Linked DNA regions of Homo sapiens: region 1 is linked to region 2. The links come from fine-mapping of genetic effects on plasma protein levels. A gene starts in region 2. The other region holds a variant in brackets. All regions are shown on one strand. Distances are between the middles of the regions.

Region 1 (12,072 bases), 16 kb before region 2:
TAGGTTTAGCTTAGACTCTCATCTGACCCAAGACTTCTTTCTCTCTAATCCTCCACATCCAGCTGGTCCTGCAGGTCCTTCTCCACAGAGCTGATCAACTGCTTGACCTGAGGTTCATTCTGGCCCTGGGAACTCAACTCCCAGGCTCCATCATTTTCAACTTAGACTTGAGTGGCCTCCCTTGGCCCTGAAACTTGCCCTGCTCAGAGATGTCACAGTCATCATCCCAAAGCCCAGCTCTGGTCTTCAAACGCTCCTTGTCACCCCATCTCTGCCCCTTGGCTTGTGCCATGCTGTTCACCCACGAGGCCCTTCCTCCAGGTTTCAAGCTGTCCGGATCCTTCAGGCTTTACTCAAATAACTGTCGCCTCAGCGAACCTTCCCTCTTCACATACACTCTCAGAAATGAGCTGTGCTTCCCCTGTGCCTGTTCTATCCTGTACGACGATTATATTCATTTTGACACATATTTAATTGCTTCAACTTTATTCAAGCTTGTTCAGGACAGAGGCCATGTCCTGGCATCTTAAGAACTCTTACAAAGTAGAAATTCAGTATATTCTTGAATGGATATTATTCATGTATGAATGCAATGTATGACTATGTATGTCAATACTATATGTTGGTGTAATTACCAAAATCTGTGGTTCAGACAGTAAGTGGAAAAGGAGTTAGCAAGTGGATGAAAATAACAAGATCTCAAGGCACCATCCATCTCTGAAATGTTACAATCTACATGTCAAAGCCTTTTGGAAGGAGGGCATCTTATTTTGGCTTGAAAGAGAAAGACAGGTGGAGGAAAGCCAGGGCTTGGGCTGTGGGTGTGGTAGAGGATGGGAGTAAAGCTCTTACAGAAAGAATAGATGGTATCAACAAAGAGAAGGACTGAGAGTTCCCAGAGAGGCCTCCAACAAAAACCAGGAGGTGAAAAGGGAGAGGTGAAGAGATCATGGTTTAAATTCCATCCCAACAGGCGTCTCACAACTGGCTGCAAGAACCCTGATGGTCCTCTGGTTTGAAGGTTAGGGATCAGTCTGATGTCCCCTGAGGGAATCTCATGAGGTCAACTTTCAAGACCCCCCCACAGCTAGCCAGTCAGTTCAAAAGAACAGGCAAACAGGTGGTTGGGGATTGGGTAAAGTCTCTTTGTTTTTATTAGATTCTTTTAGCTTTTAGCTGGACGTTATAATACATGTTGACACAGGCTGAGAGTGAATTCCTTGGAATGTGCTTTTCTTATCTGTTCCATCAGAGCTTGATGGGATTATGTAAAGGGTGTAAGCAGCCAGTCTTCAGTTATTATTCACGGCACTAGAAAATAGAGAGGATGGCCAAGCTGAGTCCAGAAACCAGCCACAATCTTCTACGTGGCTCCACCTCCCCCTGGGCCAAATTGTTGATGAAATCTACACATGCACCACACACTCTCTCTCTCTCACTGCTTTGAATCTCATCTCCATCTCAGATTGTACCTCCCGGGAGATGTTAATGAGGCTGAAGAAAGAAGCAAAAGCAACCCAGGGAAGTTCAGCATTGAAAGAGTAGAGTACTCAGAATAAGGTCGAGAGCTCAGGCAAAAAGGGCAACTTGGGTACATGGCGAGAGGGGCTGGAAGAGAATGCCTGGGCTTCCGTCCCTGATCATCTAAGGGATGCCAGATGCTGGCCCCGGCTTGGAAACCTGCACTTGGTGTGGTTTTTCTCCCTTTATCTGGTTCCGGATCTGCATCTTTGGCCTCTGTGTCCTGCACAATAACACAAATGCACTAGCATCTCTAAGTCATCCTCTGCTTTTGGCATTTTGTAATTCTGAATGCCTTTGGGGGAAATTTGGATTGGGATGTAGTGGATTTTGTTACATATTCCCAAGCTCATTCATATAGTTTTAGTGTTATATCTTACACAGAAAAATGCATGCTAAAATAGACTATGAAAGTCACTCATAGAAATGTGCAAGGAGGGATGTCATGGTTTGGGACAAGGCCAGCCAGCTAAGCTGCAGGGGAATGGGCCAGACTGGGAGTAACTGGAACCTGGAATTAGATCCTCCCACAGAGACCAGTGAACACCAGGGATAGCTCTGGGTGCTGGGAAGTCCAGGACAACAGGATGAACACAGCAGTGGTGTTGCTGTCGGCCTTAAGGGCGAGAGAGGCATCCAGTATGAAGATGAGGGGAGAGGACTTAGAGGCCCATGGAGCTTGGCCAGAAGAATCCAGAAGCCAGTGAGATCAAAACAGGCATATGATGCACTGGGCAGTTTGTTAGAAAAGAGTGCAACCTCAGCCAACAGACGGGGCTTGGCAGCAAAACTCCAGAGCCTTGTAGAAAGATGGGGAACCCAAGGCTTCTGCCACAGAGCTGGGAAAAGCCCAGGCCCTGGCTCTGAGCCAGTGCAGTCCAACAAACACAAATCAATGTCTTCTCTGAGTAAGCACTGGTCCCCAACGTGGAGACGGTCCACACTCCACTGCCCCTGAGGGAGTGTAGACCAACAGTAGTGGGGATTACTGCAAGGACAGGTCTTGCCTGCAGGGACCCACCTGCGAAATGGGAGCCCTTCCGAGGCTGTACACTAGGGGAGGTCTCATAGATGGCCTTTAGTCCTGCTTCTCAGAGGGGCAGTGGCAGCTCCCAGAGGTGGTGGCACTGAGAGAAGGATAGTGACAAAAACCTCAAGCTTGGGTGTCCTGAGCCCTGGCTGGTCACCGTTTGCAAGTCTGCAGTGCAGACTGAGAAAACCAAACCAAAGCACAAAACATTGCTTTAGGTCCACTAGATTGAGGAACATGTATTTCAAAACTCTTTGAATGTGAATGTATTTCCCTAAATCACAAATGGGGATTTAATCAATATTGAACAAAATGTCTGCTTGTTCTACTAGAGTTGAGCAAGTCTCATTAGATCTGATACAAATTTTTCACTTAATATTGCAAATAGGTAAGTAATCCACATTGTTCAAAAACATAGGCAACAAGATGTCTGTGTCCCATCTTGTCTCTCATCTGTCCAGTTGCCATCCAGATAGGTACCATGATTCCTGGTTTCTTAGGCATCTTCAAAGGTATGTTTTCCCTCCAACTGGCAAGTACCCTATGCTGGGGCCCTGATGACCTGAATGGCTGTGTCTCCTTGCAGGGGCTCTGGGAAGAGTCTGGCTGAACAGAGAAGGAGAGAGGCCGCCTCCATGCCACGAAGCATATGTGACCAGAGACCAAGGGAACACGCATGAATGGTTTTAACATAACTGGCTACTCAACACACAGATCACGCTGCTTGGAACGTCTCAGGCTAAGTGACATGGCAGCATTTTCCAGGGGCTGCTGGAGCCGAGGCGTCTTCTCTCAGGCTCCCTGATGCCTTGACGTGCCCCAGCCTCAAAGTTACCCATCTTCCCTCTTTGGTGGGCTCTGTGATGAGATATCTCACGGGCTGGGGGGCTGTTGTCAGGAGTCTGGGCTGCCAGGCAGGGGTTGAAGTGGGCTGGGGGGCAGGTTCCAGGCTAGGCCCATGGTCTGCTAGTGAGTGGCTGAAGAACACAATATTTGAGGTTTTCTCCCAAACATTTACGTTTCTGTACGGTGGCTGCTTTCAACCTTTAAAGAATAATGTTTTCTCAAGTCCACCTGTGAAAGCCAAATCCTTAGACACACAGAGGATCTTTCAGGGAAAGCTAGACATGCGGCAGAGCTGATGGGCTACTGTGATTGATTTGTGTTCAGAACCTGGAAGGAGAGCCCAAGGCTTGGGTGCCACTTAGGCAAATTCTGTGGGTGTCTCCACCGTGACATCCACAGACACAGGACTTCTGTCTGCTGCCGTCCACCCTTCCCTCAGGCCAGTCCTTGTTAGGGGCCATCAGTGTCCAGTGGGATTAACTATAGAGCACTTTCTTCATATGTACAAAACAGGTCGAATTGGAGCTACTGTGATCATAAAACAGGGCAAGGGACACAGCGTCTCGCTGGGAGCCCACCCCAGTCCCCCCACTTTCCGTCTGCTCCCACTCAGTGGGCCCTAAGAACCTCTCTATGGTATTTCCAGCACCTAGAACACTCCCAGCACACATCCCTGATATCATAATTTGTGCTCCTAATGTCTCAAAATGGAGTCACTCATGCCAAATATCAGTAAGCCCACTGTGAAGCTGTCTCCCTCCTCAAAGCGATATACACATATGCAATGGACTGAAGTGATGACACCTGCTGCTGCCCAGTGCCACCCAACCCTGAAACAGACCAATAGAAAGTGAAAGGTGGCTTAGATGATGAGAGCAAACTCATCTGGGAGGACAATAAAAGCAGCCAAGAACTGGCCTCGTTCAAGACACCCTTAGAGCCTCTGCCCATGAGAGCTCTGAAGCCTTCTCCCAATTTTGGCATCTGATGCCAGAAGCGGTGAGGACCCCATTGACCAGCGTCCCAAGGACGTCCGGACCCACTCGGCACATCTGTTGGTGTGCTGCTCTCCCGAGCCATCGCCGCGTTTCCTTACCACACTGTTATTACTGCTTGTGTGTTGGTTAATTACATGATCTGTGGTGCGTGGAGGCCTCTCAACAAAAGGTGGATTCAAGCATATGTAATTGGCTATCGAGTCACTGTGAACCTTTTTGGCTTCGGTTGGGGTTAGCACACCTAGTTGGCCAGAACCTAATTAACATCAATTGCGCACTCACTAAATGCACAACCAACCTCAGGGCTCCATTTGTCTGGTCTTCTCACGCTAAACAGCAAGAGTGCAGGCCCAGGAAGATGATGTAATGTATCCAAGTCCCTGCGGACTGTGGCAGTCAGGAGAAGCCGGCTCCTCTGCCCCCTTTCCCTGCCCTGTGGCCCACACTGCTTCGCAGCCTGCCCTGTGCAGATAATCGGCTGGGCAACCCAGGTTGAGTGGATGAGACTGCTCACCACCAAAGGTGACTCCCGGGGGACCTGGCCTCCTGGCACACCTGGAGCCCACTCCTGGTCCCTAGCACTCAGCCTGGGTTGTTCTGCTGCAGACATGTACACACATTCTCCCATGCACGTGCTCTTGAAGGTGCCCTGGGTAGTTCCTTCATCAAGAAGTAAAGATCTTCAGTATCCTGGACCAAAGTTCCATTGCTCTCAGCCCCGACAGCCCTTTGTCTAAATAAGGTGGCCCACGCATCCTCCCATGATCTGCCTTCTGGATCTTCTCTCCTTGCTGTCGAAAGGGCTGATGATGGGAGTCGGTTCAGACCAAGCAAAGTATCCAACAAGAGTCAAACACAGCACGCGCGCCCCCAGGACCCCCAGCTCTGCCCCAGGTCTCTGCCTGGTTATCGTGTGGACACAATGGACCTATTCATGGAGAGGGGCTCTGAAACTCGAGCAGGTGTTGCTGAAGGTGTCTCTGAGATGAATGTTAACCTGCTGAGTCAGGCTCCCTCCAAATTAATCTGAAATGCCCTTTAACCCACTTTTGGCACAGCACTCATGCTGAGCAGGAACTGGAGCTGCAGGGGTCAAGCCATCCCCAAAGCCTTGGCAGGAGGCACATGATCCTATCAATCAACATTGGGGTGAGGGAGGCGGGGCGGGGGGGTGTTGTGAGATCGCCATGGTGTGTAGACCGCAGTGGCTCCACGTGGACAAGCCTTCTGGAAACGCCTTTGCTGTTATTACAATCAAAAGCTTTCACCACATTTTACAGCTTTGCCCCCTACTCTAACCACTCCCTTCTTCATGGAGCAAGTTTCCAGCAGCTGAATGCCATATAATCAGAACACCCTCTGGTCACCATGGAAGCCAAAAGAAACATACTTTTTGAAAAGTGACACTTCAGTGCAGAGAGGTCTGTTGATAGGAGCTTAAATAATGATGTGCTGGGAGACATTATTTTAGTAAATTCTTAGAACACATTTTTTTTTTTCCTCAGGGCATGGCTGGTTAGTAGTGCTCTTACCCACTTCTAGCTTCAATTGCTGGACACCTCGCCTACCATGCCTGCTTCTTTAGGCAGCTTAATCGAGGCTCATTACAGAGAGTATAGTTTAAGTGGAAAAAATGTTGTTAGGTGTCTCTGGGAAGTATATGACAAAATGTTGACAAAAGTTAATTCAGGTGGGAAGACAGATTTTAACTGTGCATCCGTGAGAAATATTCTCTACCAGCTGGGTAGCAAGCAGTGAGATAGGAAGTCCATTTACTGGGGTCCACTAGGACCCACAGGATCAATTTCTCTCCTTTGCCTCAGTGGTATTCTGCATGCTTCTTGAACTCTCCTTTAAGACATGGTCTCTGATCCCCTAAAGGGCTAATGCCAAGTGAATATCTTACTCAAATTGAAATATAATTTGATGAAAATTACTTTTCCAAATAAATCTCACTGAGATTAATAGCCCTTCAAACTTTCCCATCTGTGCTAATGAGAGCCCCTTTACTCAGACTTCAGAAGATCTTGCAGCTGTGGCATCTGTTCAGGCTCTTCTTTCGTATTCACTCATCAGCCAATCAGCAAGTTCTGCCTCATGGGTGCCCTTCAAATTCAACTCTCCCCCTCACTTACAGCCCATCATAAAGGATAGATGCGGTGAAGTCTGGAGTGGAACAGGAGGGGAGGAGGAGCCTGTTGGACTATCCTTTGGTATGGCTTTCATAGACTTTCATCAATTGCACGTTTTTGACACACTCTATTCTCTGCAACCCCCGACCCACACCCAGATGGCAAATGGGCTCAGCACCCCTCCTTCTGACCTGACCACGCTCACTTCTCCTCCTTTGCCCAAACTATCCATGATCACAATGTTCTATTTTATCTTTTACCTCTGCCATGAGAGCAGCATGTCTCATTTAGAAGTTGCTTTTTTCAGCCTGGGTCCCAGAATGAAGAGGAAATCGGAGGGGAGGTCATTCCTCAAGGCCACGCACATGAGTGAGGAATAAACCTGAGCTATTCTAAGACAGACGTGGTGTGGAATTGCTTGTTGCAACAACATAACTCAGCCTCACCTTACTGATAAAGGGGGTAATATGTACACTCTTACTAATGGTGAGTTTACACATATATTTGCTCATTCTGTTCTCACAGCAAGCCTATTGGGTAACATTTACTTTCTACATTCTACTGATAAAATATTAACACTCACTGGACACAATGGCTCATGCCTGTAATCCCAGCACTTTGGGAGGCCAAAGCAGGTGGATCACCTGAGGTCAGGAGTTTGAGACCAGCTTGGCCAACATGGTGAAACCCCATCTCTACTAAAAATACAAAAAAAAAAAAATAGCCAAGTGTGGGGGCAGGTGCCTGTAATCCCAGCTACTCAGGAGGCTGAGGCAGGAGAATCGCTTGAACCAGGGAAGCGGAGGTTGCAGTGAGCTGAGATCGTGCCACTGCACTCCAGCCTGGATGATAGGACGAGACTCTGTCTCTAAAACAAAACAAAACAAAATATTAACACTCAAAAGAAGCTGTTCAAATTCTGAAAGTCAAAAAGTGACAGAATAGATTAAGTTTGATCTTTGACAGCTAAATCCGTAACTTTCTCCACTGGACCATGCGTAATGGGTTGACTTGTGGCCCCCAAGAAGATATACTGAAGTTCCCAGCCTCAGGACCTGTGAATGTGACCTTATTAGAAATAAGCCCTTTGCAGACATAGTCAAGTTAAGATGATGTCATTAAGGTGGGCCCTAATTCAATATGGCTGGTGTCCTTACAAGAAGGAGAAGCACAGAGGAACACAGAGAATGCCCCGTGACAATGGAAGCAGAGGTTGGAGTGATGTATCTACCGGCCAAGGAATACCGAGGATTGCTGGTGACACCAGAAGGCAGGGGAAAGCGCAGAACATGTTCTCCCCTTGAGACTTCAGAGAGAACACGGCCCTGCCCGCACCTGGATTTCAGACTTTGGGAATCCAAATTTGCTATAGCAGCTCTAGGAAGCTAACACACCATGACTGCCTCAATTTCAGGGCAGAAGTCACCAGAAACTCTCAGTGAGTAGGTTTGGTCATGGAAGTGGGCTGTGTAAAAAAACCCTGCATTTTTCCATTAGCAGCCTAGTGTCACGATCCCGTTTATATTGCTTTCCAATGGCTGTCAGGACAAAGTAACACAGGCTGGGTGGCTTAAACAAAAGAAATCTAGTTTCTTACAGTTCTGGAGGCTGGGAGTTTGAGATCAAGATGTCATCAGGGTTGATTTCTTCTGAGGCCTCTCTCCTTGGTCTGCAGGCAGCCGCCTTCCCCCTGTGTCTATATGTGGTCTTCC[C/T]TCTGTGCCCGTCTGGGTCCTAATCTCCTCTCCTTATAAAGATACCAGCGATACTGGATGAGTGCCCACCCTAGTGACCTCATTTTACCTTAATTACTTCTTTAAAGATCCTATCTTCAAATACAGTCACATTCGGAGATATTAGGGGGCAGGGCATAAACACATGGGTTTTGGGGGTGTACAAATTAGCCCATAACGTGGCCTGATATTTTTAAACATCTAAGTAGCTCCTTGCGATGCTGGCATACATAGCCTGGCCACCTAAGCAGCCTGGGACAGAGGCTGAAAACACAAGAGTGGCCGTGCAAGTCCCTTTAAGCTGCCACATGCGTCCCTAGGTCCGACAGCCAGACCACTCGCACCTAGGCCTGAACCGTCCTCACAGTGTTCCACGCTGGTTCTGAATCATGTGCCTGGTTCCATGCGTGGCTGTTGGCTCCACTTTCTCGACTTCAGCGATCTTCACTACAAGGAGGCTCTCCCTTGGGCTGTGCTGACCACTGGTTCCTGGTTAAACTTTCTCCCACCATCCCCAGTCTCTTTCATCTCCTACTTTGACACAGCTCTCCTTGGAGGTGACTCTCCTTCCAGGCCTCTTTCTGACTCCAACCTTATAATCAAAATTTAAAACAAAACTGAAAGACACATTTTGAGATATGTAAGATTACTAGACGTAAAGGGTAATCAGTTCACTAAATGCAAATTGCTTTCATATGAGCAAAGCATGATTGTAGTTTTTTCTCCTCCTTATTAGTTTAGAAGTGTCGAACATCAAAGTGATCATTCATTTCCCTGAAACTCTGAATGTCTTAATCATCATTATAATGCTTTTTCGCTATAGTAATTTTTTTTTTGAGATGAAGTTTCGCTCATGTTGCCCAGGCTGGAGTGCAGTGGCACCATCTTGGCTCACTGCAACCTCCTCCTCCTGGGTTCAAGCGATTCTCCTGCCTCAGCCTCCCAAGTAGCTGGGATTATGGCACCCACCACTACAACCAGCTAAATTTTTTTGTATTTTTAGTAGAGACAGGGTTTCACCGTGTTAGACAGGCTGGTCTCGAACTCCTGACCTCAAATGATCCACCTGCCTCGGCCTCCCAAAGTGCTGGGATTATAGGTGTCAGCCTCTGTGCCCAGCCCACTATAATAAGTTTTATTTGGAGAAGACAGAAATAAATAATCTGGTGCCGTGATGGAAAATAAAGAAAGTAAGAGGGAGAGAGAGCGCTGGTGGGGTGGCTGGGGAAGACGCATCCGCCACGGTGACCTTGTGGGGCAGATCTGAAGAATGCAGCGATGCCCAGCTTGGGCCTTTCTGGGGAACAAGCAGAAGGGAAGCAGCCAGGAGGAGCAGCGTGCTCAAGCACGCCCAGCGGGACACAAGCAAGCGAAGAGAAGGGTGGTGGGAGCGAGGCCCCGAAGGGGCTGGGTGACCTATAGGGCCAGGTCTGCAAGAGCGTTAGATTCCACTTGGGGTACAACAGAACCCGCTGGAGGGTTTGAACAGAGGAGTGGTGTCATCAGGACTGCTTTCCCAGGGCTGCTCTGGTTGTAGGGCAGGCACTGCTTTCAAAACAGGGCTGCTCTAGTTGTGGGGCAGGCAGCGAGAGGGAGCTGGAGTAGAGGAGGCTCCAGGCAGTCAGGGTGGTGGCTTCAGCCAGGGGTCAGCAATGGAGGTTGGGGGAGGAGAGGCTGAGGATCGACCTTGAAAGGTCAGCTGATTTCACTGTGAGACAGAGGAAGGTCAGGGAGATCAGGAGGAACCAAGGGAAAGGATGAAGGAGGAGTGAGTAAAGTAAAAGGAAACTGAGAGAGGACAGGGTCCTGGGACCTGTGAGCCGTCAGGCAGATGCAGCTCCCAGCCAGGGAACTAAGGCTGGGAATGACCAGGACGCCCGGGAGGACACTGTTCCAAACAGAAGCTTCGCTGGATTTGGTGCAAGAGAGAGTAGGAAGACAGGAAGAGGGCATGCCGAACAGAGATCATTTATTTCAGGAGGTACCTACATTGAAGGAGGCTCACAAGCTGGGGCAATGTCCCCATGTAAATGCTAATCCTGGGGGAAGGAGGGCGGAGGGGACCAGGGAGGCTGTCTCCACCCTACCTGGAGCTGTGCGTATGCAGAGTCTGTGAACAGCCCCTCAAAGGAAGCTTGAATTTTTTTTTTTTTTTTTTTTTTTTGAGACGGAGTCTCGCTCTGTCGCCCAGGCTGGAGTGCAGTGGCGCGATCTCGGCTCACTGCAAGCTCCGCCTCCCGGGTTCCCGCCATTCTCCTGCCTCAGCCTCCCGAGTAGCTGGGACTACAGGCGGGCGCCACCAGGCCCGGCTAATTTTTGTATTTTTAGTAGAGACGGGGTTTCACCGTGTTAGCCAGGATGGTCTCGATCTCCTGACCTCGTGATCCGCCCGTCTCGGCCTCCCAAAGTGCTGGGATTACAGGCGTGAGCCACCGCGCCCGGCCAGGAAGCTTGAATTCTGCAGAAGGCTGAGGATGTGGGCTCTCTCGAAACACGATTGTTCAAGTACTTTCTGCATTGATTGCCTTTGGTCCAGTTTTAATTTAAATCAGATGTTTTCTTAAAAGGTGGGGTGGTAGGAAGTATACCTTACTCTGCTGTTTTACCCCAGAACATGATATCTAGTAAGAATTTGTGTCACAGGTGATTTCTAGGAGTGCGAGACAAAATGCCGTGGCACAAATAGTAATGCTGAGTAGTTAACATCCCTGTTGTTGCCTTGATTTCCACAGAGGAGCACGATGATTCGGTCTCTCGCTGCTTCCCGGACTGTCTTGGGGAGATCTCTATCCTTGGGTCTCAGGTCACTCGCACAACCTTCTGGCCACTCTAAGATGCAGGCTTAGGCCCTGGCCAGTTACTGTGTGAGAACGGGACCTCTGATGCCTACTCGCCTAGGCGCTGGCCAGTTGCTGTGTGAGAACGGGGTCTCTGATGCCTGCTCCCCCATCTCAGCTCTGCCACGACGTTCTTTGGTGCCTGAAACAAAACATTGAATTTCCCTGCACTTTATTTACTAGTGTCTAAATGTTGAAATAATAATAATATACTGTGGAACAAACTTATTTCAGCATCTGTTCATCTCTTGGTAGTTTACTGGCAGTAAAGATAAAATTCTAGACTGGCTTCCCCGCTACTCAGAATGTTTCTGGGCCACTTTCCTCAACTGCTTAACCGGAAGTGTTTGAAAATTGCAAACAAATGTTACCATTAGCCTTAGCAAAATGATGCTAAGTTACGCTGCCTCAAAACAGATGCAGCATTTCCCTCTTACCCATGACCTGGATTGAACAAATCACTGCTTTCTTTCCTTGACTTTATGTTAAACTCCACTTCAGTCAAATGTGAATTTACCCCAAAGGGAGAATAACTTTACGAAAAGATCCACGGTAAGATACACTAAAACAGAAAGCATTCCAAGGGCATTTAAACTGTGGTTGTGTTTTCACTAGTTGATCCACACACCGCTCTTCAGAGAGAGAGCTTATGCCTAAAGTAAGATGTAGAGACACACACCACGCCGGTGGCTGTTTCTTCCAGCTCAGATCTCTCCTCTTTAAAATGCTTTTTCACACTACTCCAACTGGAAGGAACGCCTCCTCTCCCTGGTCCTCTGCAGCACGCTGGGGCCCTACTCCCTATTCTCTGTGTATTCATTCGCTTGGGCTGCCATTATAAAGTACCACAGATGGAGTGGCTCCAACAACAGCAACTTATTTGTTCACAGTTCATGAGCAAGGTGTTAGCAGCATTGGTGTCTCCTGGGCCCCTCTCCACCGCCTGCGAGGGCCGCCTTGCTGTGTCCTCAGATGGCC
Region 2 (12,072 bases):
TATGAGGCCAGCATCATTCTGATACCAAAGCCAGGCAGAGACACAACAAAAAAAGAGAATTTTAGACCAATATCCTTCATGAACATTGATGCAAAAATCCTCAATAAAATACTGGCAAAACGAATCCAGCAGCACATCAAAAAGCTTATCCACCATGATCAAGTGGGCTTCATCCCTGGGATGCAAGGCTGGTTCAATATACGCAAATCAATAAATGTAATCCAGCATATAAACAGAGCCAAAGACAAAAACCACATGATTATCTCAATAGATGCAGAAAAAGCCTTTGACAAAATTCAACAACCCTTCATGCTAAAAACTCTCAATAAATTAGGTATTGATGGGACTTATTTCAAAATAATAAGAGCTATCAATGACAAACCCACAGCCAATATCATACTGAATGGGCAAAAACTGGAAGCATTCCCTTTGAAAACTGGCACAAGACAGGGATGCCCTCTCTCACCACTCCTATTCAACCCAGTGTTGGAAGTTCTGGCCAGGGCAATTAGGCAGGAGAAGGAAATAAAGGGTATTCAATTAGGAAAAGAGGAAGTCAAATTGTCCCTGTTTGCAGATGACATGATTGTATATCTAGAAAACCCCATTGTCTCAGCCCAAAATCTCCTTAAGCTGATAAGCAACTTCAGCAAAGTCTCAGGATACAAAATCAATGTACAAAAATCACAAGCATTCTTATACACCAACAACAGACAAACAGAGAGCCAAATCATGAGTGAACTCCCATTCACAATTGCTTCAAAGAGAATAAAATACCTAGGAATCCCACTTACAAGGGATGTGAAGGACCTCTTCAAGGAGAACTACAAACCACTGGTCAACGAAATAAAAGAGGATACAAACAAATGGAAGAACATTCCATGCTCATGGGTAGAAGAATCAATATCATGAAAATGGCCATACTGCCCAAGGTAATTTACAGATTCAATGCCATCCCCATCAAGCTACCAATGCCTTTCTTCACAGAATTGGAAAAAACTACTTTAAAGTTCATATGGAATCAAAAAAGAGCCCGTATCGCCAAGTCAATCCTAAGCCAAAAGAACAAAGCTGGAGGCATCACACTACCTGACTTCAAACTATACTACAAGGCTACAGTAACCAAAACAGCATGGTACTGGTACCAAAACAGAGATATCGATCAATGGAACAAAACAGAGCCCTCAGAAATAACGCCGCATATCTACAACTATCTGATCTTTGACAAACCTGAGAAAAACAAGCAATGGGGAAAGGATTCCCTATTTAATAAATGGTGCTGGGAAAACTGGCTAGCCATATGGAGAAAGCTGAAACTGGATCCCTTCCTTACACCTTATACAAAAATCAATTCAAGATGGATTAAAGACTTAAACGTTAGACCTAAAACCATAAAAACCCTAGAAGAAAACCTAGGCATTGCCATTCAGGACATAGGCATGGGCAAGGACTTCATGTCTAAAACACCAAAAGCAATGGCAACCAAAGCCAAAATTGACAAATGGGATCTAATTAAACTGAAGAGCTTCTGCACAGCAAAAGAAACTACCATCAGAGTGAACAGGCAACCTACAAAATGGGAGAAAATTTTCGCAACCTACTCATCTGACAAAGGGCTAATATCCAGAATCTACGATGAACTCAAACAAATTTACAAGAAAAAAACAAACAACCCCATCAAAAAGTGGGCGAAGGACATGAACAGACACTTCTCAAAAGAAGACATTTATGCGGCCAAAAAACACATGAAAAAATGCTCATCATCACTGGCCATCAGAGAAATGCAAATCAAAACCACAATGAGATACCATCTCACACCAGTTAGAATGGCAATCATTAAAAACTCAGGAAACAACAGGTGCTGGAGAGGATGTGGAGAAATAGGAACACTTTTACACTGTTGGTGGGACTGTAAACTAGTTCAACCATTGTGGAAGTCAGTGTGGCAATTCCTCAGGGATCTAGAACTGGAAATACCATTTGACCCAGCCATCCCATTACTGGGTATATATCCAAAGGACTATAAATCATGCTGCTATAAAAACACATGCACACGTATGTTTATTGCGGCATTATTCACAATAGCAAAGACTTGGAACCAACCCAAATGTCCAACAATGATAGACTGGATTAAGAAAATGTGGCACATATACACCATGGAATACTATGCAGCCATAAAAAATGATGAGTTCATGTCCTTTGTAGGGACATGGATGAAATTGGAAATCATCATTCTCAGTAAACTATCGCAAGAACAAAAAACCAAACACCGCATATTCTCACTCATAGGTGGGAATTGAACAATGAGAACACATGGACACAGGAAGGGGAACATCACACTCTGGGGACTGTTGTGGGGTGGGGGGAGGCGGGAGGGATAGCATTGGGAGATATACCTAATGCTAGATGACGAGTTAGTGGGTGCAGCGCACCAGCATGGCACATGTATACATATGTAACTAACCTGCACAATGTGCACATGTACCCTAAAACTTAAAGTATAATAATAAAAAAAAAAAGAAAAAAGATTCAATGTTCCTGGCATTCAATTGTTTGATTCATCTTCATGATCATGATTGGCATTTTGGTTGCTTTTGTCCTGATATAAACATGTTTTGAGGCAAATAAATAATCAGCCATGGTGGCTTCATGGCAGCAACTGGGCTAGATGGTTTCAAGGTTGCTCACAAATAGGCCTGTTGATTCCCCATCCCCATCCACTGTGAAATTCTCTGTCTCAAGGGAGTTTCCGCTATTTGCATACTTTCTACACGAAGGCCTCCTAGGAGGGTCCAGCCCTAACTTTAAAATTACCTGTGCAAATAGCAAAGACTTTGAACCAACCCAAATGCCCATCAATGATAGACTGGATAAAGAAAATGTGGCACATATACACCATGGAATACTATGCAGCCATAAAAAAGAATGTGTTCATGTCCTTTGCAGAGACATGGATGAAGCTAGAAGCCATCATTTTCAGCAAACTAACACAGGGACAGAAAATCAAACACCACATGTTCTCACTCATAAGTGGGAGTTGAACAATGAGAACACATGGACACAGGGAGGGGGACATCACACACTGGGCCCTGTTGGAGGATCGGGGGCACAGGGAGGGAGAGCATTAGGACAAATACCTAACGCATGCAGGGCTTAAAATCTAGATGACGAGTTGACAGGTGCAGCAAACCACCATGGCACATGTATGCCTCTGTAACAAAACTGCACGTTCTGCACATGTGTCCCAGAATTTAAAGTGAAATAAAATAAAATAAAATTCCCCATGCATTGCCTAGTTCTATGTCTGCATCCAGCAGCACCTGAAATCCCGGCCTGATGCAGCCCCGGCAGTTCATCTCATTTTATTTTGCCTGAAGTCTCCAAGCAAGTTCTCCCAGCTCAAGGGCCAGCATTCTTTCCAACAACTCATCACTCCTCGTTATGCAAAGGGAAGAACACCAAGGGCTTTCTGTATTCTGAGCAATAATTCGGGTAATGAAGTGAGAGCTTAGCCTCTCTTGTGAATGCTGAGGAACCCTAAAACAGCATATCTTTTGCTTCCAAAAAGATCTAGCATAGCAATTTTGTTGGTTCATAAAATGCTCAAATGCTCAAACCATATGTTTAGCTACAATTCCCAATGGCTATATCCTTCTTTATATGAGTAAAAGAGGAGGTTTTCAGCATCAGGTGGAAAAATAAGTATGGGTATTGGGGAAAATAGTCTAAATTTAACTCTGAGTCAGTTCCAAGACAGTGGAGGTGATACCAGGTTCATGGCCTGGCATTTCCCAGCCTGCGAATTCTGCTTCAAGTCTGCAAGTCTGCCCAGTAGGTACAAGACAAATCATACCCAAGGACATTTGTACAGAAACATGAGCCTTGCTAGATCCCTCCCTTGTGCAGGGTAGCTTCTATGAAACATATAGACCAAGCAGACTTCCACATCAGTGAATACATTTGGCCATCTGAAAATACAGAGACTTAACACATATGGAGACCTGTGGCTTCCTCGGGCCAGCCTCAGTTTGAAAGCAAGGGTGAGATCTTTGTCAGACACTCACGGGACCTGTGCTGCCCATAAAGGAAGGGGCCCTTCTCTCAGGACAGCACAAGGGAAAACACCCACAGCCGGAAAAGAAGGTGTGTCTCAGCATGACGGAGGCTGTGTGCAAATTATTCCTTGTGCCAATATCAGGAGTGTGGATCTGACAAACAAAAGGCCATGTCATTGGCTTAGTGTCTCTGTGGAGTCTGTAATGGTCCTTTTACTTACTTGAGTCCTTTCTAAGATGGATTTTGTTCATTTTCCACTAAGATTGCAGAAGCTGCACGTGGCGTGGCAGTTTATGAATTGGGTCCCCTGGCAAGGCTCTGAAAGACAGCTGGAGTGGGGGTGGGCTGTGTGTGTGAAGCCGCTGCACAGAGCTGGAGTCGGCTGTCCACACAATCACGTCTATGTGAGAGCCGGCAGCCTGCAAACTGCTTCCCTGCAAGGGGAGACACATGCCAGGGGAGGGCCAGAGAATTTTGTTAATTCTGTTTATCTTAGAGACTGTTTTTTTGTCTGCTGGGGGAAATAAAAAACAAATACATAACTTCCTTGCTTGTGTGCAGTCTGATTTTTTTCTCTCTCTCATGCCCTCATTTTTATTTCTCCGAAGTATCTCTCCCCTTCAGTTTGGGGCATCAGTTTATGGCATTTTTCCGTACATGTGTATATAGTATCTATGCACAAAGTCAGAGATATAAATGTCTGTTTTAGACTCTTTTGGCTTTAGTGTTCTGTGGAGGTCCATGAGATATCAGAGATCTCATTTTCTTTCTGTTAACATAATTAGCAGAGCTCTCTCTGTGCTCAGAGTGCATAGCTGAGTCCCGCATAACCAGCAATAACAGTGCATTCTTAGCAGCCTCCCTGGATAGTTTGCTAAATTCTTTCTGAGAGCCTCTCGCTGCCTTTACAAAGGTTATAGCTGAAAAACAAACCAGAAACTGGGAATCCAACTCTGTGAGCAGAGAGAGGGCTGCACATTCTATTATCGCACGGATAGAGGCTCAGGTTCATGCAGTCGCGTTTGGAGTCCTGGCAATTTCAGATGAAGGCCGTCCTTAGGAAAATCAGCTATCCCAAGCCCAGGCAGTCTGGGTTAGCCGAGGTTTTTGTTTGTTTTGTGGAGTTTTTGCTGGTTGGTCTTTTGTAGATGCTGCAAATCACAAATGGGGAACCTGAACGACACAAGCTTTTTCTTCTCCGTATCATTTTACCTGGCCAAAAAGGCAAAAGAAGGGGAAGGTGGCATTGCTAAGTCACAGGGAAGGATATGACCTAAACATCCCCCCTTCCCCAAGTAATCCGGGAGCACCACTCCCCTCTGAGGACCCCACAGGTACTTTCACAGTCCAACACACTGAGAAACAAGCCCACAGGGTGCCAGGATGACATGACCACAGAGAAAAGGGACAGAAGGAGTTTGGGACACATGCACGGACACCTGTTGCTTTTGCAGACTTGAACTTAGAAAATATGAGCCTCATTAGAATTTCTCTTTCTAAAATAAACGACCACTTTTAATATCGTCAAATATCATGTACTGCTATAGTTCTCTGTCCTCCGCACTGAGAATCCAAAACAGGTCCTTGGGATAACTTTTGGGAAACAATACCGCCACGAAAACAAAAGTCTTCTCAGCCAAGAACACAGATTTTTTTTATCTACCTTTGATGTCCCAAAGGACTAGAGAATCCAGAGCATTTAAATAAGACTCCAATGCCAGGAGCTCACTGTTCCCTGCTGGATGCCAGCCCTCCCCTCCCTGCCCAGAAGAGGACATGGTACTCACCAGTCATTAGGGTATAATAATTGGGATACGAGAGACTAGGGAAGTCTGGAGTCAAGTAATCCACTTTTACTCCCCTGCTCACAATCTCTTTGAAACCAGGCAATGACTCCAGCGCCTCATCACTGATGTAGTCTGAGCGAAAACCATCCAGCAGAAACACCAGCAGCTTCCGGCGGGCAGAGGCTGGCTGGGCCAGGCCCAGGGCAAGGGCCAGCAGGAGGGTCCCAAGCTTCACTGCCATGCTGCCAGGAGCCTGCCAGAGCCCGGCTGGCACAGCTGTCGCCTTGCAAAGACTGAGGATGGAGAATCTGTAGCTATTCTCTCTTCCAGGGGCTGGACCTTGAGCCGCTGGCCTTCCTGAGTCAAGTTCACTTGCAGAATTTAAAGGAACAGCACCCCCTTTTCCACACATCTATGCTCACCCTTTACTAGAAAGTCCAGAGACCGACTCCTTCAGATAAACTGGGTTCCAAACAACCCAGAATTAACACCAGGGGAGAGAGTTCAAACTTATTATTTTTGGTGAACGTTCCAGAAATACAAGCACCCACAGAGGTGGAATTTTAGAAGATGACAAAGTCAACACTAACTTTGCAGTTGAGCTAACCAAAGGGAGGAACCAAGGAAAAGGGCAAGATTTTAATTTGCTGTTATCCCACATCATGGCCTCATTTAAACTCTTTTTCACTTAGAATTTAGTAACGCAAACCTCTGGACTCAGTGCATAAACAGGAAACAATACGTTTCGGTGGGCCCATTTGTAAACTTCCCAGCTGTGTCTCTGTAGACACAGCACTTAAAAAAGTTATTTGTCTATGTCTTGGCCACTTATGTTTTTATATGCAGTGTTATTATTTGTTATTATTTTATTTTTCAAATGTGATTTAGCTGCTGGTGCCCATAGGAGGAGGTGGTTCGTAGAAGAGCCCTAGAGCCAATGAGAAGCTTCCAGAGTTGGACAATGGGAAATCATTACTGGCAGAATGGTCTGAAGCAGCATTGCCCCAGGAGGATGGAAATGAAATAGAGAGCTGGAGATTGAGAGCTTGAGATGGAAAAGCAGAGCTAGAAATTACCATGCAGGCTTTGGGACCGAGAAGACTAGGCGGAGTGGAAAATAGGAGGAGGTTAGTGACAGGGAGGCAGATGTGAGCTGGGGAGCAGACAGAGTTAGCACAAAGTACCCAGAGTCCAGGGGTTCCCTAGAGTGGCTCCGTCATGCTACATAAAATTAAACAACACAATTCATGTGAAGGCTTATAAAACATGGCTGAGTGCAGTGGCCCACTTTGGGAGGCCAAGGTGGAAGGATTGCTTGAGGCCAGGAGCTTGAGACCAGCCTGGGCAACACAGCAAGACCCCATCTCTATAAAAAATTAAAAAATTAGCTGGGCCTGGCGGCACGTGCCTGGTCCCAGCTACACAGGAGGCTGAGGTGGGAGGATTGTGTGAGCACAGGTGGTCATATCTGCAGTAAGCTGTGATTGTATCACTGCACTCCAGGCTGGGCAACAGAGTGAGGCCCTGCCTCAAAAAAAAAAAGACATAAAACATGCATGGTCCATAGCAAGTGTTGAACAAATGTTAGATGTTATTCGCATTATAACATTGCTTGTCTCCTGAGGAAACTTGCAGGCTCTGGGCAAACTTTCCAGGGAAGGAAGATAGACACCAGCCACACCAGCCACTCTCAGTCAACCCCAAAATCCCTCTTCCACCTCTGCCCTCTGCTTGTGTCTTTTCTCCTTCTCTTTTTCTGTTGTATTTGAGTCAAGCCCAAACACAGGATCACCATGTCACTTTTTAAATTATGCTGCAAAAGAGAAACACATTGGCCAAATTACCACTCCCCTCTCAGGGGACTTGGCCAAGGATCAGAATTCTTTTTTCCAATAAGAGGTAATGCTTTTTATAATTAAATTTAAATTTTTTTCTTATTAAAAAATAAGGAAAAGGGGAGTTTATCCTAAAAGGTTGTTACTTTGAAAACAATGTTATTCTTTTTTCTTTGAGCTGTGTGGTATTGTTGCTATAAACAGAGAAAAAGAAAAGAGAGAAGAAAGAGGAAAGGAAGGAAGAAAGAAAGAAAAAGGAAAGAAAGAAAAGTAAACGAAGGAAGGGAGAAAGAGAAAGAAAGGGAAGGGAAGAAAAGGGAAGAAGGAAAGAGAACAGAAGGGAAGAGAAGAAAGGAAGAAAAGGGAGGAAGGGAAGGAAAGGGGAGGGGAAGGAAGGGGAGGAAAGGGAAGGGAGGGAAAGGAAGGGAAGGGAAAGGGAAAGGGGAAGGGAAGGAGGAAAAAAAGAATAGAAGGGAAGAAGGGAAAGGAAGAGAAAAAGGGAAGAAAAGCGAAGAAGGGAAGGGAAGGGAAGGGGAGGGGAAGGGAAGGGAGGGAAAGGAAGGGAAGGGAAAGGGTAAGGGGAAGGGGAAGGGAAGGAGGAAAAAAGAATAGAAGGGAAGAAGGGAAAGGAAGAGAAGAAGGGAAGAAAAGCGAAGAAGGGAAGGGAAGGGAAGGGAAGGGGAGGGGAAGGGAAGGGAGGGAAAGAAGGGAAAGGAAAGGGAAAGGGGAAGGGGAAGGGAAGGAAAAAAAAGAATAGAAGGGAAGAAGGGAAGGGAAGAGAAGAAGGGAAGAAAAGCGAAGAAGAGAAGGGAAGGAAAGGGGCGGGGAAGGGAGGGGAGGGGAGGGAAGGGAAGGGAAGGGAAAGGAAGGGAAGAAGGGAAGAAGAGAAGGAAAGGGAAGGTGAGGGGAATGGAAGGGAGGGGAGGGAAGGGAAGGGAAAGGAAAAAGGGAAGAAGGGAAGAAAAGGGAAGAAGGGAAGAGAAGAGATGGGAAGAAGGGAAAGGGAGGGATGGGAAGAAGGGAAAGGGAGGGATGGGAAGAAGGGAAAGGGAGGGAAGGGAAGAAGAGAAGAGAAGGGAAGGGAAAGGGAGGAGAGGGAAGGGAAGGGAAGGAGAAGGGAGGGGAGGGGAGGGGAAAAGGCAGATGCAGCCTGATGGGTTGATGGGCCTCCTAGACACTGAACATCACATGTGCTAGAAGGAGAACTTCTTCCCCTGGTGAGGGCCCATGGAGGTAGGAGGCCCAGATAGCTGTGCTCTGTGAGTTCCTGAGAGGCTCAGGGATTGTCTGGACTGCGAAGCTGGAGTCACAGTGCAAGTCCAAGTGATTTACTTTGGGATGGCCTCTGAGCTCACTTTGGGATGGCTTCTGAGCTCACTTTGGGAGAGGTTAAGCACTCCAAATGTTAAAGATGAATATAAGAGGGACTTCCACTTTTCTCCACTACTAACAAGGGTACACTCAAAATATGGCTCCCTGAGTGCCTCATTGAGCTGTTGTGGGTGTCAACTCAGAAGTAACTTGCTTCAGATTAGCGTGTTCACAGGTCCCCAGAGGCTCCCAAGGCTCCACAAAGATTGTTGTGATGTATCTGGGGTGGGGTCATCATTGTTTTATGATAATGTTTATGATCATATTGTGTTATGACCATGTTTAGACAATGTCTCTAAAGCTTTGGATCAATAAATGATTGCCAATATGAATCTCTAATATACATACCAATATATGAAGAAAGAGACGTATTGGATGGAATTCAAGCCAAGGTAATCCTAGGGTTGCTCAAAGCCAGTCTCCAGGTCTTGAACCGTCTAACCTAGAAAAGATTGGAAATGAAAGCTAAAAAGCAATAGTTAAAAGCCATATGTCATACAGGTGGTTAACATTAAGTGCCCAAAGTCTTGTGATCCAAAACCTATGTGTCTATGATCTGGATGTCTTCACTTGGGAGTGGTTATCAGTACCTAATGCTTATAAGTGCTTATTGCAACTTGTTTTCAAGGGTTGGCAATACTGTAAAGTCATTGTCCACAGGGGTTTCACTTAGATAATGCAAAATATGAAAAATTTACTCCAGAAGTTGAAAGAACCTTTGTCCTAAAGCTGCTGCAAGTCTCTCTAGGGACATGCATGAGCTCTCAGGAAATGTGCTGTCCAGATTAGTCAGCACCCTGGTGCCTCCCCTTTATGGAGAGACAGGTGAGATGGAAGGGAAAGAGTCTCAGAAAAACAAAACAAAACAAAACAAAATAAACAAACAAAAAACACAAAAAAAACGTGATTCCAGAGTCAAGATCCTGGTATGATGCAATTGTGTGATTCTGAAGAAATTGCCTTTCTGGGCTTCAGTTTTCACCTCTGAAAAGTGACAAAGCTCTAGCTTCTACTTTCTAGCTGTAGAATCAATGCAATTTGAGAGTGAGGTCCCAAGTCAGCCCATGTCGGCCAACATCCACCCTTGTTGGTCCTATTAATTAATTCATCCCAGCTTTTGCAGCCCTGCTGGCCTTTTGTTGGTCCATGTCAACCCTCCTTGTATCTGGAAAAATATTATTTAAAATTTAAGACGACATAAGGACATTTTTAGATAAACAAAAGATGAGAGAATTAGTTACCAACAGGCTTGTACCACAAAAAAATACTAAAGAATGTCCTTTGAGAGGAAATAACACAAGATGAAAATTAATATACACAGGAAGGGAAAAAAATTCATAAATGATCAATATGTGAGTACATATAAAAGACTATGTTTTTCTTTCATAAATGTCCTTAAAAATAACTGCTTAAAGTAAAAAGAATAACACTATGCTGCGAGTGATGACTTACGAAGAATTAAAGGATATAAAGACAACAGCCTAAATGAAAGGGGTAGAATGTTTGAATGGAATTAAGCTGTTGTGAAGTTCCTTGAAATTTATGAAATGGGAAAAGTCAGATGTCAAGAGCAAAATGTAAAGTGATTGAATATTTATTCTAACTAGACTGTAATAAGGATGCATATTGTAATCCTCAGAGTAACTACTAAACAACAACAAAAAAATACAAAGATTTTCGACTAAAAGGTCAGTAGCGAAAGAGGAAAATACCTCAACATAATAAAGGCTATATTTGAAAAGCCCACAGCTGACTTCACGCCCAGTGGTGGAAAGCTGAAAGCTTTTCCTCTAAGAGCAGTAATAAGATATGGATGCTTGATCTAAACACTTCTATTCAACATACTGGAAGTCCTAGCCAGACAATTAGGCAAGAGAATTATAAATAAAAAAATAAAACCATCTCTGTTTGACAATGACATGATCTTACATGTACAAACTCCTAAAGATCACACACACACACACACACACACACACACACACACACAGAGCATATAAGTTGCAAGATATAAAATCATCCAAAAATCAGTTGTGTTTCTATAAAGTAACAATAAACAGTCCAAAAATAAAAATAAGAAAACAGTCTCATTTACAATAGCATCAAAGGGAACAAAATACTTGAAAATAGGCTGGGTGTGGTGGCTCACACCTGTAACCTCAGCACTTTGGGAGGCCAAGGCGGGCAGATCACTTGAGGTCAGGAGTTTGAGACCAGCCTGGCCAACATGGCAAAACCCGTCTCTACTAAAAATACAAAAATTAGCCAGGTGTGGTGGCAAGCACCTGTAATTCCAGCTACTCAGGAGGCTGAGGCAGGAGAATCACTTGAACCTGGGAGGTGGAGGTTGCATCGTGCCACTGCATTCTAGCCTGGGTGACAAAAGCAAATCTCTGTCTCAAAAAACAAACAAACAAACAAACAAACAAACAAAAACTTGAAAATAAATCTAACCACAGAGGTAGAAGATCTGTATGCCGAAATGACAATATACTGATGAGAGAAATTGAATAATACACAAATAAATGGAAAGATATTCCATGTTCATGGATTGGAATAATTTATATTGTTAAGATGTTCATATTACCCAAAGCGATCTACAGAGTCAATGCAATCTCTATCAAAACTCAAATGATATTTTTTCCCAGAAATAGAAAAAAAAAATCCTAAAATGTGTATGGACCCAGAAAGAATTGTGAATAACTAAAGAAATCTTGAATAAAAAGAATGAAGCTGGAGGCATCATACTATCTGACTTTGTAACATACTACAAAGCTATAGCTATCAAAACAGCATGGTACTGGTATAAAAACAGACACATAGACCCAAGGAACAGAATAGAGAGGCCAGAAATAAGCCAACACATTTACACTCAATTGATATTCGACAAAGGTGTTGTAGGGGAGTGAAAAATGGCTTTCATTCACACTTTTTGATTCTTTGGCTGGGCTAATAATTAAATTAGCATGAGACAGATTAATGAGAGAAAAATCATATTTAATTACATATGACACACAGGAGTCTTA

Alleles and levels. Alleles are on the strand shown, and positions count from the first base shown. The strength of an association depends on the size of the effect and on how common the allele is.
With allele T in place of C in region 1, the plasma level of the protein whose gene starts at base 6,138 in region 2 is lower (moderate association).

Evidence for each region. PIP is the posterior inclusion probability: the model's chance that the variant is causal. Protein levels are from antibody-based Olink assays in UK Biobank. Linkage for the fine-mapping came from a reference panel and not from the study's own genotypes, which makes the PIPs less certain.
Region 1: its variant is fine-mapped to the plasma level of the ENPP6 protein (UK Biobank, PIP above 0.99).

What each region holds. Positions count from the first base shown.
Region 1 is chr4:184,195,855-184,207,926 of GRCh38, forward strand. All of the region lies in intron 1 of ENPP6 (ectonucleotide pyrophosphatase/phosphodiesterase 6), which reads right to left. Among named protein-coding and RNA genes, the nearest start is that of ENPP6, 16 kb to the right of the region's middle. The variant C/T (reference allele first, on the strand shown) is at 8,240.
Region 2 is chr4:184,211,736-184,223,807 of GRCh38, forward strand. ENPP6 (ectonucleotide pyrophosphatase/phosphodiesterase 6) reads right to left here and starts at 6,138. Exons shown (of 8, transcript NM_153343.4): 1 at 5,844-6,138. The coding sequence starts at 6,084.